Homo sapiens: one gene and its partner. The main gene of each other region encodes a partner of the protein of the gene in region 2 in a complex. Each region holds a gene or a part of one and is shown on either strand. Other genes may lie near its edges.

The links.
Region 1: PIGA (region 2) and PIGP share a complex: the UniProt entries of both Homo sapiens proteins name them as parts of the glycosylphosphatidylinositol-N-acetylglucosaminyltransferase (GPI-GnT) complex.

Annotation. Positions count from the first base shown.
Region 1 is NC_000021.9:37,069,952-37,077,749, forward strand, and holds the start of PIGP (phosphatidylinositol N-acetylglucosaminyltransferase subunit P), read right to left. Parts: upstream 3,121-7,798; 5' UTR 3,049-3,120; exon of another isoform or gene 2,897-3,048; intron 2,853-2,896; exon of another isoform or gene 2,637-2,852; coding exon of another isoform or gene 2,565-2,636; coding exon 2,483-2,564; intron 2,360-2,482; exon of another isoform or gene 2,198-2,359; coding exon of another isoform or gene 2,194-2,197; intron 1-2,193. Other genes in the region: E3 ubiquitin-protein ligase TTC3, read left to right, coding at 3,478-3,532. UniProt on the Homo sapiens protein: Part of the glycosylphosphatidylinositol-N-acetylglucosaminyltransferase (GPI-GnT) complex that catalyzes the transfer of N-acetylglucosamine from UDP-N-acetylglucosamine to phosphatidylinositol and participates in the first step of GPI biosynthesis.
Region 2 is NC_000023.11:15,332,328-15,340,117, forward strand, and holds the start of PIGA (phosphatidylinositol N-acetylglucosaminyltransferase subunit A), read right to left. Parts: upstream 3,197-7,790; 5' UTR 3,187-3,196; coding exon of another isoform or gene 3,174-3,186; intron 1-3,173. UniProt on the Homo sapiens protein: Catalytic subunit of the glycosylphosphatidylinositol-N-acetylglucosaminyltransferase (GPI-GnT) complex that catalyzes the transfer of N-acetylglucosamine from UDP-N-acetylglucosamine to phosphatidylinositol and participates in the first step of GPI biosynthesis.

The DNA of each region.
Region 1 (7,798 bases), on a different chromosome or scaffold from region 2:
ATCCCCACAAGGTTGAAGTAATTATAGACATTTAATTGCTCAAAGGGAAATTTACCTACCCTAGTTCTCATCCACCACATACTGAGCTTCTGCCCTATCTCCCAGAGTACAATGTTATTTCCCTCAATCCGAAATCTCGGCACTCTTTACTGTTATCCCACGATAACAACAATGGCTAAGTTCTGAGCACTCACTGTGGGTTAAGCACAGTTCCAAGCATTCTGTATGCATTAAGATAATCCTCCAAGACAATCCTCCAAGGCAAGTATGCAATTTTAAATGATGAGGAAATGGAAGCTTAGAAAGGATACATCACCTACCCAAGGTAAGCGGCAAAGATAAATTTTAACTACCTACTACATCAGTGATGATGCATTCTTTTCTTAACAAATATGTATTACAGAATTCTGTATGTCAGGTGTGTGAGACACAATATTGAATCCAAAAGAGATGGCTTCTGCCCTCCCTAAACTTAAAATCTAGTGGTGAATAGAGAAAATTGGTATTTTCACTACATTGTTACAAGTGCTCACGAATGAGTAATAAAAGATGACATAGAAGCACATTAGAAGGCCCTCCTTCCACTTCGTATCCTCCTTCCCTTTGCTTAATTTCTCCCCATAGTACGTTATCACCTGATACTATATACGTTTTTCTTATTTAACTTGCCCATTGACTATCTCCCCCCGGCATGAGAATGAAGACTCAAAGCAGGGCATTTTTGGCTGTTTTGGTCCTTCCTGGCCTGTAACAGTGCCTGGCACATGGTAAGCACCAATAAATACTTGAATTACTTTTTGGTTGTGGGTATGATGGAATTTAATTTTGTTTTGAGACAGTTTCGCTCGTTGCCCAGGCTGGAGTGCAAAAGTGCAATCTCAGCTCACGGCAACCTCCGCCTCCCGGGTTCAAGCGATTCTCCTGCCTCAGCCTCCCGAGTAGCTGGAGTTACAGGCATGCGCCACCATCCCGGCTAATTTTGTATTTTTAGTAGAGACAGGGTTTTTCCATGTTGGTCTGGCTGGTCTCAAACTCCCGACCTCAGATGATCTGCCTGCCTCGGCCACCCAAAGTGCCGGGATTACAGGCGTGAGCCACCAGGCCGGCCAGAATTTAAGCCTTAAAGTGATTGCTTTTATTTATTCATATAGCTTCTAATCCTTGACATACTCTTTGAACAAGGATTTACAAAAGTGCTAACAATAACATCAGTAGCTAACACTTATTAAGTCCCTAACTGTTCCTAGGCATTATTTTACGTGCTTTACATAAATTACCCCCGTTAATCCTCACAACAGTCAGAAGAGGCAGCAGAGTGAAGTCAGCCAGTGTATTTGGGTTCAAATTTAGAAGGCTTTTATTTAGTAGCTTTGCAATCTTGAGCAAGTTACTGAAACCACAGGATGCTCATCTTTAAAGGACAGTAATAACAGAACCTACCCCATAGAACTGTTTCATGCGTCATAAGCATTTAATAACCATCATTATCACTACCCTTTTACAGATAAGGAACCTGAGGCTCAAAAAATTTGCTGAGGGTCCCAGCTCACATGGCTAATCTGTGGAGGAGTCAGAATTCGAACTCAGTTGTAACTTCTTCACTTCACTTCAGTTTTAATAGCCTGGCCATTACATTCATCTGCAAGCTGTGCTGATGGTGCAGGCTGATATATTTTAGTTAGGGTTCAGAAGTACTACCACTCCTCCACTTTCCTGGTTTCCAAACAGTTGCAGAACGTTGGATCACGGGCACTCAATTTTCTCCCTTTTGTGTGCCTCAAAATTCTCAAATCATTTTGGGGAGAGACTTGGGACTTGCTGTGTGAGTGGGCATATTAGTGTCTTAGTGAGCATCAGTCTCCTTATCTGTAAAATGGAATGTTATGGGGTTAAATTAAGGGAGATCCAGGACGCAAACGACACACCTTTCAACCCGACTTCTCTGGCCTACTTCTCCTGTTCCCCAGATCCCGCAGGGCACACTGGTGACATCACAAGCTCCTCGGGTCCAAACCCTCTCACGCCCTCATTCAAGGCCTTTCCACTTCTTCCCTCCCTCTTACTCTTTCCTAATCAGCATCAGTGCCAGGGGGAAAGGCCTCTGTAGAAAGCCTTGACTTTCCAGTCTGGTTTCAATGTCTCTCCACCGTGCTCCCTGACACTCATCACACTGAGCATTAACTGTAGATTTACCCATCTGTCTCCTCCACAAGACCACGACCTCCTTAAGGGCAGGGACCAGGCTTTATCCACTTTGCCATCGCGTCTGGTGCTGTATAAATATTTGTAGAGACTAAAACCTCCTAGGCTAGTGCTGGCACACGGAACACTCAGCAAACACGAGATCCCTTCAGATTTTCTTAAAAAGAGACATAGGGAGAAAGAATCAACAGTTCATGTGTGCACAGTCTAACCAATGTATTCTTCCCTTGTCACTGAACGCCAGAAAAAGCCCCTGGCCATCCATCAGGAAAGTACTTACTGAAGCCAAATTGGGAGCTTAAGAAAAGAACAAAGCCATAAATCGCTCTTTCTGGCAATGGCGACGGTGAATTTTCCACCATTTTTCCTGGGGCTTTAGACAATCTGTGGAAAAGGAACACAATCAGCGTCAGCGATGTGCTCCGTGGCACCATTGATCCATTCTCGCCTCCTCGCTCCGCCGCGGGTACGGCCCCCGCCGCGCAGAACCGCCTCCCGCGCCTCCGTCCGCAACCCGCGCCCCCGCCTCGAGCGCATACAGACACCCAGGCTGGCGCGCGCCCCGCAACAGAAGGGGTGGCGGAGGATAGGGCAGGGAGGGGGGTTCTGGGGCGATAGACGCGCGCTCCAGCTCTGCAAGCGTGGCCTCCCTGTGGGAGGGGAGGGCAGGGAACAAGGCTCGCGCGGCGCCCACCAGCATGCGGGCCTACTAGGTCGCGGCGCCCAGGCCCCGGGCCCTGCCCATTCGTGGAGACTTCTATTTCTCATTCGAGGCGGGGTATGGGGGGGCCCTCGACCTCGGGTCCTTCATACGCCCACCCAGGCCCCTCCCGACACCTCGGCCACCTCAGCGCTGAGTTCTCCGCGCAAGCGCCGACTGGGGAGCCGCAGTGGGGAAGAGGAAAACCTGAGGGAAAGGCCTAGGCGCGACGGCAACCCCCACCCTGGCGCAGGCGCACAACGACCCTCCCCGGGTGGGAGCCAGCGAGCGCGGGGGCGGGCGTGATCCCGCGGCTCGCGACGGCGAAGGAGGGGGCGGTGGGGTGCGACTGCGCACGCGCGCTGCCAGCCCACGTGACGCACCTCGCTTCAACGCCGCCACCCGCTCCCTCCCGCCGTCGGCTGACGTGGAGGGCCGGAGGTGGCGGCGGCGGCGGCGGCGGCTGCTGCTGCTGCTGCCCGCGTCCGAGGCTCGCGGGCGGCGGGCCCGGGTGAGTGCACACCCGGCGCGCTGCCGGGCTCCCGGATGTGTCACCTTGTCCCGCTGCAGCCGAGATGCCGGGGGAGCGGGGCCTTCCACACCCCCTCCGTGGGTGTGTGGTGAGTGTGGGTGTGTGCGCGTCTCCTCGCGTCCCTCGCTGAGGTGCCTACTGTGTCTGCATGGGTTGGGTCCCGCGCGATGAGGGGGTGTGGCCGCCATTGCCTACCCCAGTGGGTTTGCCCCCTTGGTCTGGTGCCCCTTCGCGAGCGAGGCCCTGGGATGCCGGTGCGAGGGTGTGAGTAGTCCCTTTGTGCGCAACCCCCCGCTGCCCGTGCCTCGGCCGGTGCGTGGCTGACACCTCCGCTGGGTGGAGGCGCTCGCGTGTCGCCTCGTCGCCCCTTTTGTGTCGGTGTCCGCGCTCCCTGGCGGCTGCGTGGGCGCTCTCGGCCTTGCAGGTGGCCCCCCTTTGTGTTACTGCCCCTGTCTGTGGGCTGCGCGTCCCCTAGCGCGCGTGGCCGCGCCTTCTGCAATTGCGACCCCCGCCTAGAGCCTTGCTCGCGCAAGTGTGCGTCCTTGCGTGTCTCCGAGTGACGCAGAGTGTCTGCGCATGGGTCCTGTTGAGTGCGTGATCTCTTGTGTGCGGATTTAATTCTGTCGAGTGGGTATCTCTTGTGTGCAGGTTTCGTTGGTGAGCGTGAACGTTCGTGCACACCCCTTGCTGTGTGTGCGTGTCACGACTCTGTTGCCACCTGTTTTCGTGTGAACTGGCAGTCCAGTCCAGGGCCTGTCCCCACGGAACGGACCCAGGAGGGGGGTAACCTCGCCGCTCCCCTCGCCCCCGCGCCTCTTTCTGAGCATTCTCTCCCACAGACGCTAATGGGAAGGGGGGTGGACAGGATCGAGTCTGGCCAGCTGCTCCGCAGTGTTGACGCTGCCAGTGTGGCCTCTTCAGCCAGCCTGTTCAGGAGACAGAATAGGGGGATCAAAGATAAAAAATGAAGCCGAGACGTAGGTGAATTTGGGCTGGTACCAGTGCGCCGTGCCTTTTCCAGTGGCGCCCTGGACGCCAAAACCCCCTCAGTTGCAGAGACCTTTCAAAATATATGCACTCTCCTACTGGGCGATGCGGTCCTTAGGCGTTCTTGATGATATTTAATGGTTTATAGAGTATTTTATGGCATTCACCTAAATCTCTTTCCATTTTGCCCAAGATCCTGGCGAGGGAAACAAGGTAGAAATTTTACAGATTTTACTCCTCCGGAGAGAGCCTTTTCCTTATAACTACGACTCTAGTTAGGACATTTTTTGTTGCAAGAAATTTGCGATTTATCCTAAGGAAAATGGGATATAGTATAAGGATACCTAGGGTAAGAAACTTCAAACCCCTTAGAGACCCAGCTACTGCTCCGATTGCTCAAGGTTTCGTGCTCTGCGCTCAAGGGCTGCGTTTTGGTGTCTTTGTTCTGCCCAATTTTCTTATTGTCTAATTTTCCTTTTTTTCTTTTAATTTTTGGAATATTTCAGATATCAAATACAGAGGGGGAGCTAACCAATCCATGATTCAGATTTTACAGACGTGATTATTTAATCTTTTGCCAAATTTACTTCAGATACTCTTTTTTTTTAAAGAAATAAAATTGCTCTCAGTTCCTTCCCCTCCTTTTCTAGAGATAGCCACTGCGTTGAGGTTTGTGTATATCTTTACTTTGCATATTTTATACTTTGATCAAGGTGAATCCATACACAATATATATTATTGTTTGTTTTTAAACTTTAATGGCATTAAAATATACATGCCTTTTTGCAACTTGCTTTTTTTTTTTTTGCTCAGCATCATATTTTGAGGTTTATATATGAACAAATTGAATGATTGTGTTATCTTTGGTTCATTCATTTTAATTGCTGGTATAGAATTGCGTTGTATGAATATACCATATTTATTTATACATTCCCCTGTTGATAGACTTTGAACTTGTTTCAGTTTTTGACTCTTAAAAACAGTCCTGCAATAAATATCTTTGTACTTGTCTGCTTGTGCACACATTTGGAAGTTTCTGTAGGAAGTACACCTAAGTAGTAGATTTGCCGGATTGTAGGCTATGTGCGTCTTCAATTTAACCAAGTATCACAGAAGCTCTCGAAGTGGTTGTACCAATTTTCACTGTCACTGGTGTTGAGTGAGAACACAATTTCCTCACAACCCTGCTAACACTTTATGTTATGAGACTTTACATTTTTGCCATCTCTTTACTGACCAGCTTCCTTATGACTTTTGGTTGCTGCTAAATTTGCTTGTAGCCACCTTGGCTTCTCTTGTAGCCCTGTGTCAGCCTATGGATTTATCTCTTATAGCTAATTGGCTTAGTCTTTATCTCCTTTGGTTCTCATAAGATTAATTCCAATGAACATTTGTTGTATACCTAATGTATGTCAGATCCTATGATTGATGTATAGATAGAATTTCCATGATATGTTAAATATGTACCTCTTTAGTGGCAGGTGAGGTGATTTAATTAAAAGTATTTTTTTTCTTATGATGAATGTTTAAAAAATTTTTCTTTTCCTCTCCATTTTATTGTAGTATTTGATAAATTCAAAATATATGTAAAACATATGCAAGCTGTATAGCAGAACAATAAAATGAACACCTATGAATTCACCACTCAATCCAATAATCAAAATGACCAGTATTGAATGTGCTTACTTCCAGAGGTGACTACCATCCTGAATTGTGTATATTATGCCTTGTTTTTAAAAATAATTTTATCAGATATGTATACATCCCTCAAAAATGTATTGTATGGTTTCTGTTGTTTTTGAGTGGAAAAAATCATATTGGGTATAGTTTCCTGGGACTTGCTTATTTCACTTGATGTTATGTTTCTGAGTTACTAATATTGGGTATAGATGTAAGTCATTAATTTTCACTGCTGTGTAATATTCCAAGTGTGAATATAACACAGTGTATGCATTCTTCTGTTAATGGGCATTTTGGTTGTTTCTAGGTTTTGCTGTTATGAAGTTATATACTTTTTGGTTCACAGTTGTAAGAATTTTTCTAATTTTCACACTGGGGTATATGAGCCCCAGAGGAGTAATGAAGATTTGCTAAGGAATGTGTGGGTACAAATGATGTTAATGAATCAGTTTCTAGATCATTACATTCCATAGGTACTCTTTCCTAAAAATGGTAATGCCTGAGGCCTCCTGCTAGTGCTACTTTCTTACCTTGTGTTTCTAACATTGCACTTTACATAAGACAGGCAAACCACAGGTTCTTGTGGAATCTTACTATGGCATTGCCCAAAGGGGGAAAACTCCCTTGGGGAAAACAAAGGGATTTTTTTTTTTTTTTTTTTTTTTTTTGAGTGAAGTTTTGCTCTTTTTGCCCAGGCTGGAGTGCAATGGCACGATCTCGGCTCACTGCAACCTCTGCCTCCCAAGTTCAAGTGATTCTCTTGCCTCAGCCTCTGAGTAGCTGGGATTACAGGCGCGCACCACCACACCCGGCTAATTTTGTATTTTTAGTAGAGACGGGATTTCACCATGTTGGCTAGGCACGTCTTGAACTCCTGACCTCAGGTGATCTGCCCGACTCGGCCTCCCAAAGTGCTGGGATTACAGGCCACCGCGCCTGGCCTACAAAGGGATAATTTAAAATACCACTATAGTGTTAGGGAAAGCCTCTTTTAATCCTGGCACTTCCCCATCCATTTCCTTAAGAGAGATATTTCCAATAAAGTTGCTTTTTTTTTTATGTTATCAGGGTATATTTTTTGGCCAACCATATGCTGGTAATAATTATACATTTAAAAGAATGAGATAATCAGTTTTACTTTAAAATGTTACTGTGATGTTCTAGAAATTCACCCTTTGCAATTATTTAATCTTATGGTGATATTTTTTAAATGTCATCTTAATGGGTAAAGGGTATGCAATTTTAAAAAGCACTTTTGGTGGTTTGCGAGCAAAAAAAAAAGGTTGAAATACCACCATGTTAATTTGTTCAGCAGCAAAAGAAAAAGAAAAGAGAAAGAAATACTGCCGTATCACTATAGTAAGCTGTTTGCTAGAAATGGGATTGCTAGATCAAGGGGTATGAATGATCAGCTTTACAAAATAATGTCAGATTACTTTCTGAAGGGGTTGTATCAGTTTGTACTTTGGCCAGCAGTTTTGTCTGTTTATATACTTTGATCAACAGTGTGTAAGAGTTACAGTTGATCTACAACCTCTCCAACACTTGTTATTGTCAGACTTAATATTTGCCAATGGAATGGGTATGAAATGATGCATCATTGTGGTTTTAATTTGCATTTTTTGTTATTAATGAGATTGAGCATCTTTTGTATGTTTATGAACTGTCTTTGTTTCCTTTTTATGAAATATCTAGTC
Region 2 (7,790 bases):
ATTTATATATTTCCCCTTTACTCTTATACTTTACCAGCTTCTATTAATACTTATTAAATGGCCACTATACATCAGCTACTACATGCTAAGACTCTTCTATATCTTATTGCAGCCTCACCAAAACTCCATGAGTTATCAACTCCATCTTATAAATGGAAAGTCTAAAGCTTAAAGGGGTTAAGAAATTTGTTCAGTTATTCAGTGCTTAGAGGTAACACAATGTAGCAGTCTGATTCATTAGCGGTCATGTCTTCTGGTATTTATGCCCTTCTATAGTATAGTCCCTTCCCGTTGCATTTGGACCTGGTTTAGCCCATAGAAGGTAGTGAAAGTGATGTGCAAATTTTTGGCCTCGGCCTAAAAAAGGTGTGGTGATTTCCAAGGTGTGGTGGTTTTCACTTGTGCACTCTTAGATATCCTAAGCCAAAGTGTAAGGAATCCATCTACTGTGCTAGAGGGACAAGGGAAGAGATAATATGGAGAAGGAAGAGCTCTGAGACTACATGGAAAGAGCCAGAGGCCCAGCCATCCAGCCAACTTACCAGCTAAATGCAGCCTCCTAGTGACCACTGGCAAGACCAAGAGAACCACCCAGCTGAGCCTAGCTCACTGCAGTATCATGAAACATACCAAAATGGCTATTGTTTTACATCGTCTTGGGGTGGTTTGGTAAAAAATAACAGACAACTAAAACAGGCCAGGATCCAAACTCGGTTATACTGGTCCACTGCCTGTTTTTGTAAAGTTTTATAGGCTCATAGGTGTGCCCATTCATTTATGTGAATGGCTACTTTTGTGCTACAAGAGCAGAGTAGCTACAACAGAGACCATATGACCCACAGAGCTGAAAATATTTACCATCTGGTCCTCTACTAAAGTTTGCCAACCCCTGCTCTATAGCTTAGCCACTGATTCAATTACTCTCAAAGTTTTGCTAGCATTACCTTTGTGGTTTACACTAAAACACACCCGGAGCTCGAACTATCTTTTTGAGAGCACCTTTTTCAAATGTCACCAGAGCACATGCTGCACACATGTTCTCCTTCCTTATTCAAAGAGGGTGATTATTTAGGCCGGGTGCGGTGGCTCACGCCTGTAATCCTAGCACTTTGGGAGGCTGAGGTGGGTGGATCACCTGAGGTCAGGAGTTCAAGACCAGCCTGGCCAACATGAAGAAACCTCATCTCTATTAAAAATACAAAAATTAGCTGGGCGTGGTGGTGCCTGCCTGTGGTCCTAGCTACTCGGGAGGCTGAGGCAGGAGAACCGCTTGAACCCGGGAGTCCGAAGTTGCAGTGAGCCGAGATCGCGCCGCTGCACTCCAGCCAGGGTGACACAGCGAGACTCCATCTCAAAAAAACAAAACAAAACAAAAACAAAAAACAGAAACACAAAAACCAAAGAGGGTGATTATGTAACTGCTCCCTTCACTTTTTAAACTTTTCTATCAGTTATGCAGGCCTTTCAAACTCAATGAGTGTCCCTCCCTTCAGTGCGGTGTCTAAAGATAAAGGCTAAACTAGAGATGGGCTGTATCTGGGACCATTTTCTCAATTTAAAGTGCGAAATGTTTATCTCAGGGGTCCCCTAAAGCTTTATTAATGTGAAATGCCCACTCAATATTTAGTACTACTGTACATTCTTAGACACTTAAAGCTAAAAAGAATCTTGGATATCTAGTCAAAATCTTCCTCAGCTTTACAAATGAGATTTCCAAGGCTCCAGAAAACAAACAACTATACAATGAGAAGCCATCCTAAAGCTCTGAGTTTCCGGTTTCACCTGCAAACTCAGAAAATGCCAATTAACTGTATGTGCAAAGGCTTAACTGTCTAGTCTCTCCAACAAATTCATCTACTTTTTTTTTTTTTTTTTTTTTTTGAGACGGAGTCTCACTCTGTTGCCCAGGCTAGTGTGCAGTGGAGCGATCTCGTCTCACTGCAGCCTCTGCCTCCCGAGTTCAAGCGATTCTCCCACTTCAGCCTCCTGAATAGCTGGAATTACAGGCGCACACCACAAGCCCAGCTAATTTTTGTATTTTTAGTAGAGACGGGGTTTCATCATGTTGGCCAGGCTGGTCTCGAACCCCTGACCTCAGGTGATCCACCAGCCTCGGCCTCCCAAAGTGCTGGGATTACAGGTGTGAGCCACCGTGCCCGGCCTCATCTACATTTTAAATATACTCTCGGAAAGACCCCAGAAGTGTTTGTTGACTGAGTTTACTAATTAAGATTCAATATTACCAAATATTGAAATTCCCCAAGTTTGTACTTTTAGGTGGCTTAACTAACATTTTCTTACTGTGGTCACCTAAACCCGAACTTCCAGTTCTACCAGTTTTAAAAGATGAACGATAGCAAAAACAGTGAGTAATGAACCAAATGATATCATTTAAAATGTTGTCATTAGCCTGCAACGTTCTGTGAGGAGTCTGCCCACTTCCGCCAGGTTTTCAGTCCAAACATCTTTGACATAAAAGTTCATTATGCTGCACAATCGCAGAATCTTAGCTCTTAAAGCCGAAATGAGGCTTGGAGCTCTAGTGAATACCTCTCTCGTTTTACAAATGAGAACCCAGACAAGTTGAGTGATTTGTCCAAGGTTCCCACCCAGCCACTTAAAGTGGCAAAGACATTACCGTAAAATTCTCGACCACGACCAACGAGCCCTGGGCAATCATTAGCAGTAGAGGTTCCTGAAGAACCTTAGGGAGACCTGGCAGGAGTTGTGGGTCAAGAGAATGGTACTTCCACCGACAATTCCTGGGCACTGTCTGAGCTTCATTCCCTGATTCCCTGAGAGGTCGCTGGGGAAACGCTCGGGCCAAGGAGGGGATACCCCTGCTCAGACAGCGACCCCGCTGGGTTCATGGCGGGGATGGCCAGGCCCAAAGAGAGAAAGAAAACAACCAAAGAGTGGACGTTGGTCTCAGGCCCGGGGTTCCGGAGACCCCAGTCCCTCGACCCACCCGCCTGAGCCAAGGAACCCAGCGCGTCCGCCCTAAACGCACCCTCAGCCCCAACCTACTCTGGAGACCCTCCGACCCAACTTCCGGGCTTCGAACCGGGTCGGTTTCACCCCCTCCACCACCCGCCACGATCCCACGCGCGCAGAACAGCCCCATCCGAAAGCGGCCCAGAGCGCTGGAGAGGGGCGGCGCGACGCGCACTCACCGGTGAGTTCCATGGCCGCCAGTGTCCGGACCTCCCGCGGCTGCAGCCGGAGTCCCTCCCTGCTGTTCCGCAGCACCAATCTAGGGCGTCCGCGCCCAAGGGCCGCGCCCCCGAGGCAGCCAATCACAAAGAGGCGCTGAGGTCACGTCCGAGAGAGACGCTCTGTCGTCCCCACCCTTAAGCGCGAGATGTAACGTCAGCGCGCGCCTGCGCCCGTCTCCTAGAAGCGGCCGACGGTAGGGTGGGTGCTCACCCTGGTTTCCTGGTTACAGCGTCTCTATTCCGGACGCCAGTTCTCTGCGCGCTTGCTTCTGATTGGAGAGACTTTTTGTTTGTAATCAGCTGTGCCACGGCAAAACCGTGCCGGTTCTTACCGCTCTGGGACGTTTGCCAGATAAATAAATAAAAATACACAAAAAGTCAAAACAGATGAAACTATGAAGTTTTAATTTCAGATAAAGCACAAATGATGTTTAATACAAGCATGTACCAAATATTGGGGACTTCACTACACATTCGTTTTTTATCGGACATGTAAATTTAACTAGACATCCTGTTATTTATATGGCAATTCTACACTCTGAGGGAAACATACGAGGTCTGATCTGAAATATCAACTCCCACTCGACTGGTTCAACTAGTTACGATGGTGCTTGACTAGGAAGCTAAAGAATCAGTGAGAGTGGTATGACGGTCATCCATGCGTCACAGCTGGTACTTGGAATCCCCCATCCCTGCCATACGTGCGTTTTCGAGAAGAAATTCCTTTCTGAGTACCATCACAGCCACCGTTACTGGCACCCATTTTATTAAGCCTAGTGTAAGCCTATTCATCCCTGAAAATGTCTGCTCCTTTCTGATGCTTTCCCCAAGCCTCCAGAGAATGAAATACTCTCACTTTTTAATTTTAATAGTACTTTGGCCACATGCTGGCCAAAGTATAACATTTATCAGATGATATTCAAGTTGTTTGCCTGATTGCATTCTCCCTCCTCACCCTGATCCTTGATTACTTGTCTCTTGAGATCTCACATGGACTTCTTTCTGAAAACGGAAATTGTATTTGCTTGTTAAATGTCTGCCTTCCCTGCCAGATAGTAAACTGAGGCAGGATCTGTTCTTGGTAATGGATGTTGAGGAAGTTTTAGTTTAATACATGAATTTCTTTACCCAATGTCAGCACACTCCCTGACACATATTAGATGCTCACAATAAAATGTATTGACAGTATTTCGTGGAGTGTACCTTATACAAATTACAGTGCAATAACATCATTGAAAGAGCATTTTAGTTGTGAGATTTGAAGCGAATTAATGAGTTGATGAGTAAGACTAGAGTAGCAATCGATACTTTGCCCTGTGTTAATATTGATGAAGCATCGGAGAATTACAGTGATGAAGACTCAAGGACACTTAATTAAGCTTTATAATTTGTAGTTGGTTTCACAGATAACAGCGACATTACCAGATAGGTACAGCATTTGGCCTCCTTTCCATTTTTGTAATAGGTTTTAAGACAAAGAGTGGGGGTAGAAATCCTGGAAGGTATAAATGAGGGTTAAGCCTCACTTATTGAGCCCCTGGTTTGCCCCTGCCATAGTTCTGATCACAGTACACGTTTGAAATTCCACCATGAATCTTTTTTCAAAATATAACAAATATTTCTTATTTTTATCATCAAACATTTACTGGATGTCTGCTCTGTAAAAGGCCTTGTGGGGAATACAAGAAATATTAAGCATAGTCCCTGTGTTTCAACAGCTTTTTATTTTTTCTAGCTTTTCCTGTACATGTTATCAATAGTCAAAAGAAATCCACCTTTCTTAAAAGGTTCTTTGTGTTTCAAATATAGAATAGGCTGACCTTTATAAATAGATATTAATAGAGGCACACTGTTGCTGAGTCTCTGTGGGGGAGGGCGTTGAGGAGCCTGCAGGCTGTTCCAACAAAGTCTGAAAACATTGAACATTTATTTAAAGCTCCAGCTTCTGTCCTAGGCACTGAGCATTAAAAGATAAATAAATCATGATTCCGACTCCCAAGGGTTCATAATCTCACCTGGGTACATGACTTCATTTATAGTCAGTTAAGTAAAGGTCTCCATTTAAGGCTATATTCTAAAAAGTCAAAAGAAATTTGTAGTAGCAAGATTAAGATATAAATCTGGAGATGATTCTAATTATGGTGTCCTGCCTTAATGTATGGTCTCAAGGTATGTCTTGAGAGAATTTTCTCCGGAACCACTAAAATTAGACTAAGATACTTACATGCATTATATTCTGATTGCACTTAATAAAATATGAGGGCAATTGGTACCAGTTTTAGTATTAAACGACCTGAGATGATGAAGATGTAAAATAAATGTAGATATCATCTTCCCTTGAAATTCAGTTTTTGCAACTTCATATGTAAATTAGCTCTTTGGGATAATCTTGGAGTGCGAAGGCAACAAACATGTCTTGAGAGCCTACTATCTGTGTACAAAGCACGATGCAGAGAAAACCTGGCATGAGCTTTACTTGCAAGGAAACAATACAGAGTTAAGGCATATGTAAATATCTACGATAAAAAGCAGGAAGTGATAAATGCCATAAGAGAAATATAAGAAAAATATTGGGAGTTCAAAGGGGAAGAGTATTTCTAGCTGCCAGCATTTAGCTAGAAGAATAAGTAGATGGTGTCATGCAACTCTTGGGAACAGGGTAATTCCAAGAACAACATGAATGAGGTACAGACAGGTGCTGTCCAGCAAACACTGCTTTGTAATCACAAAGGAAAAGAGAAGGGAAAGTGGGCAGACAGAAGAAGAGTGGCATTATCAATGAAGGTTAGAGCAAACTGGTAGAAGATATTACTAAGGAAAATGGGCTTGATGTTGAGGCGGACTTCCAGCCAAGATCACATTTTCAATTAGTATTTTGAGACTCCTAACTCCTGATTCTGCTTCAAATATAACAATAAGTGATACAATATAAATGAGAAAATTTAATGTTTTACCTGTGATTTAAACAAGAAGATAAACATTTCCGTGTATCAGAAACAGAACCAATACGCAAAATGGTGATCAGGAACAAAGCCACCTAGGTCCTGGATTCTGTATGTGGCAGCAGGAAGATGTGAACCAGGGTTCAGCCCCTGTAGAATAATAGACTAACAGGGTTCCATGTGTGGCTTGATACAGGAACCAGTTTTGTGAGAGACTGTTACAACGGTGACCTTCAATAAACCAGTATTCCATATTGGCAGCCTTGTCTAATCCTCTCCCACATTGGCTCTGGGTTTGAGCATGTGACTGGAATGGCCAAATGAGATGCCACAGATGCTTAATAAGTGTTTATTTACTGGGATGCATCTTGTTGGAACCTTTCCTCTTGAAAGCCAATGACCATGCTGTGAAGCTCAGACAAGATATTGGATAATGGCAAGCCACATGGAGAGAAGCCCTGAAGAATGAGAGGTCATCTTGGGCATTCCAGCAGTAAGTGAGTTCCCAATTTAATATAACCACTGGAGTGACTTCAGCCTATACTATGTGGAAAGAACCACTTAGCTGATCCTAACTAACCCACAGAATTATGAGAAATAATAAATCGTTATTGTCTCAAAACATTAAGTTTTTGGGTGATTTGTTACATAGCAATAGATAACCAAGCCTTATTGCTTAACCATCTCCCCTACTTGTGAATAGACATTGAAAGAATTTTTTGCCAACAGTCTGAGGATATAACTTTGCTAACAGAACTGAGCCAAGCAACATAATTTGCAATTTTCCACTATCACTGCTAGTCTGGGGGATATAAGCACACACACACACACACACACACACACACACACATACACACACACACACACGGGGAGAGGAGAGAGTGAGAGTGAGAGCGAGAGAGAGAGAGCTCTCAAGATTGGTTTATAAACCAAAATTCAAAAACAATGGAAGATATATAATATTAAGAAAGACAACACACAAATGTAACAATGGAAGAAGAATTCACTCTAGACGCAATTCAAATAATTTTTGAAATGACATTTTTAAAAGAATAAGAATTTGGAAATAAAAACATGCAGAAATTAAACAAACACCAGTGGATATAAAAGAATCAATTAGATACCTTGAACATGAAGATGTTACTAGCATTTTTAAAACTCATATTGATAAGCTTTAGGCTACACACTGTTGAAACAAAGGTTAGTGTGGTGGAAAAGAGTAACTAAGGCAGTTACTTCTTTTTGATGCAGAATATGAGATGAAATGTCAAACCACAATCAAAGCTTTGTCCTAGGAAAATTGTTCCAAGAACTGGAGAAAAGGAAGGTGAAAGAGTGGCACAGCTGGAGAAGAGACCAGTTAGGCTGTTCCAGTAGTCCAGAAGCCTCCTTGCAATTTAAAGTAGGGGCTGCAGATCAGCAACAGCAACTGGGAGCTGGTCAGAAGTGCAGACTCTCAGATTCTCCAGACCTGCTAAATCTGAATCTGCAATTTAACAAGATCTGGAATGATAGTATGCACATTATAGCTTAAGAAACTAGCTCTAGACTAGAGGCAATGAGGACCTGATGTTTTCTCGTGGCAATAAAAAAAAAGAGAGAGACAAGGAAAATCACAGGATATTGGGATTTG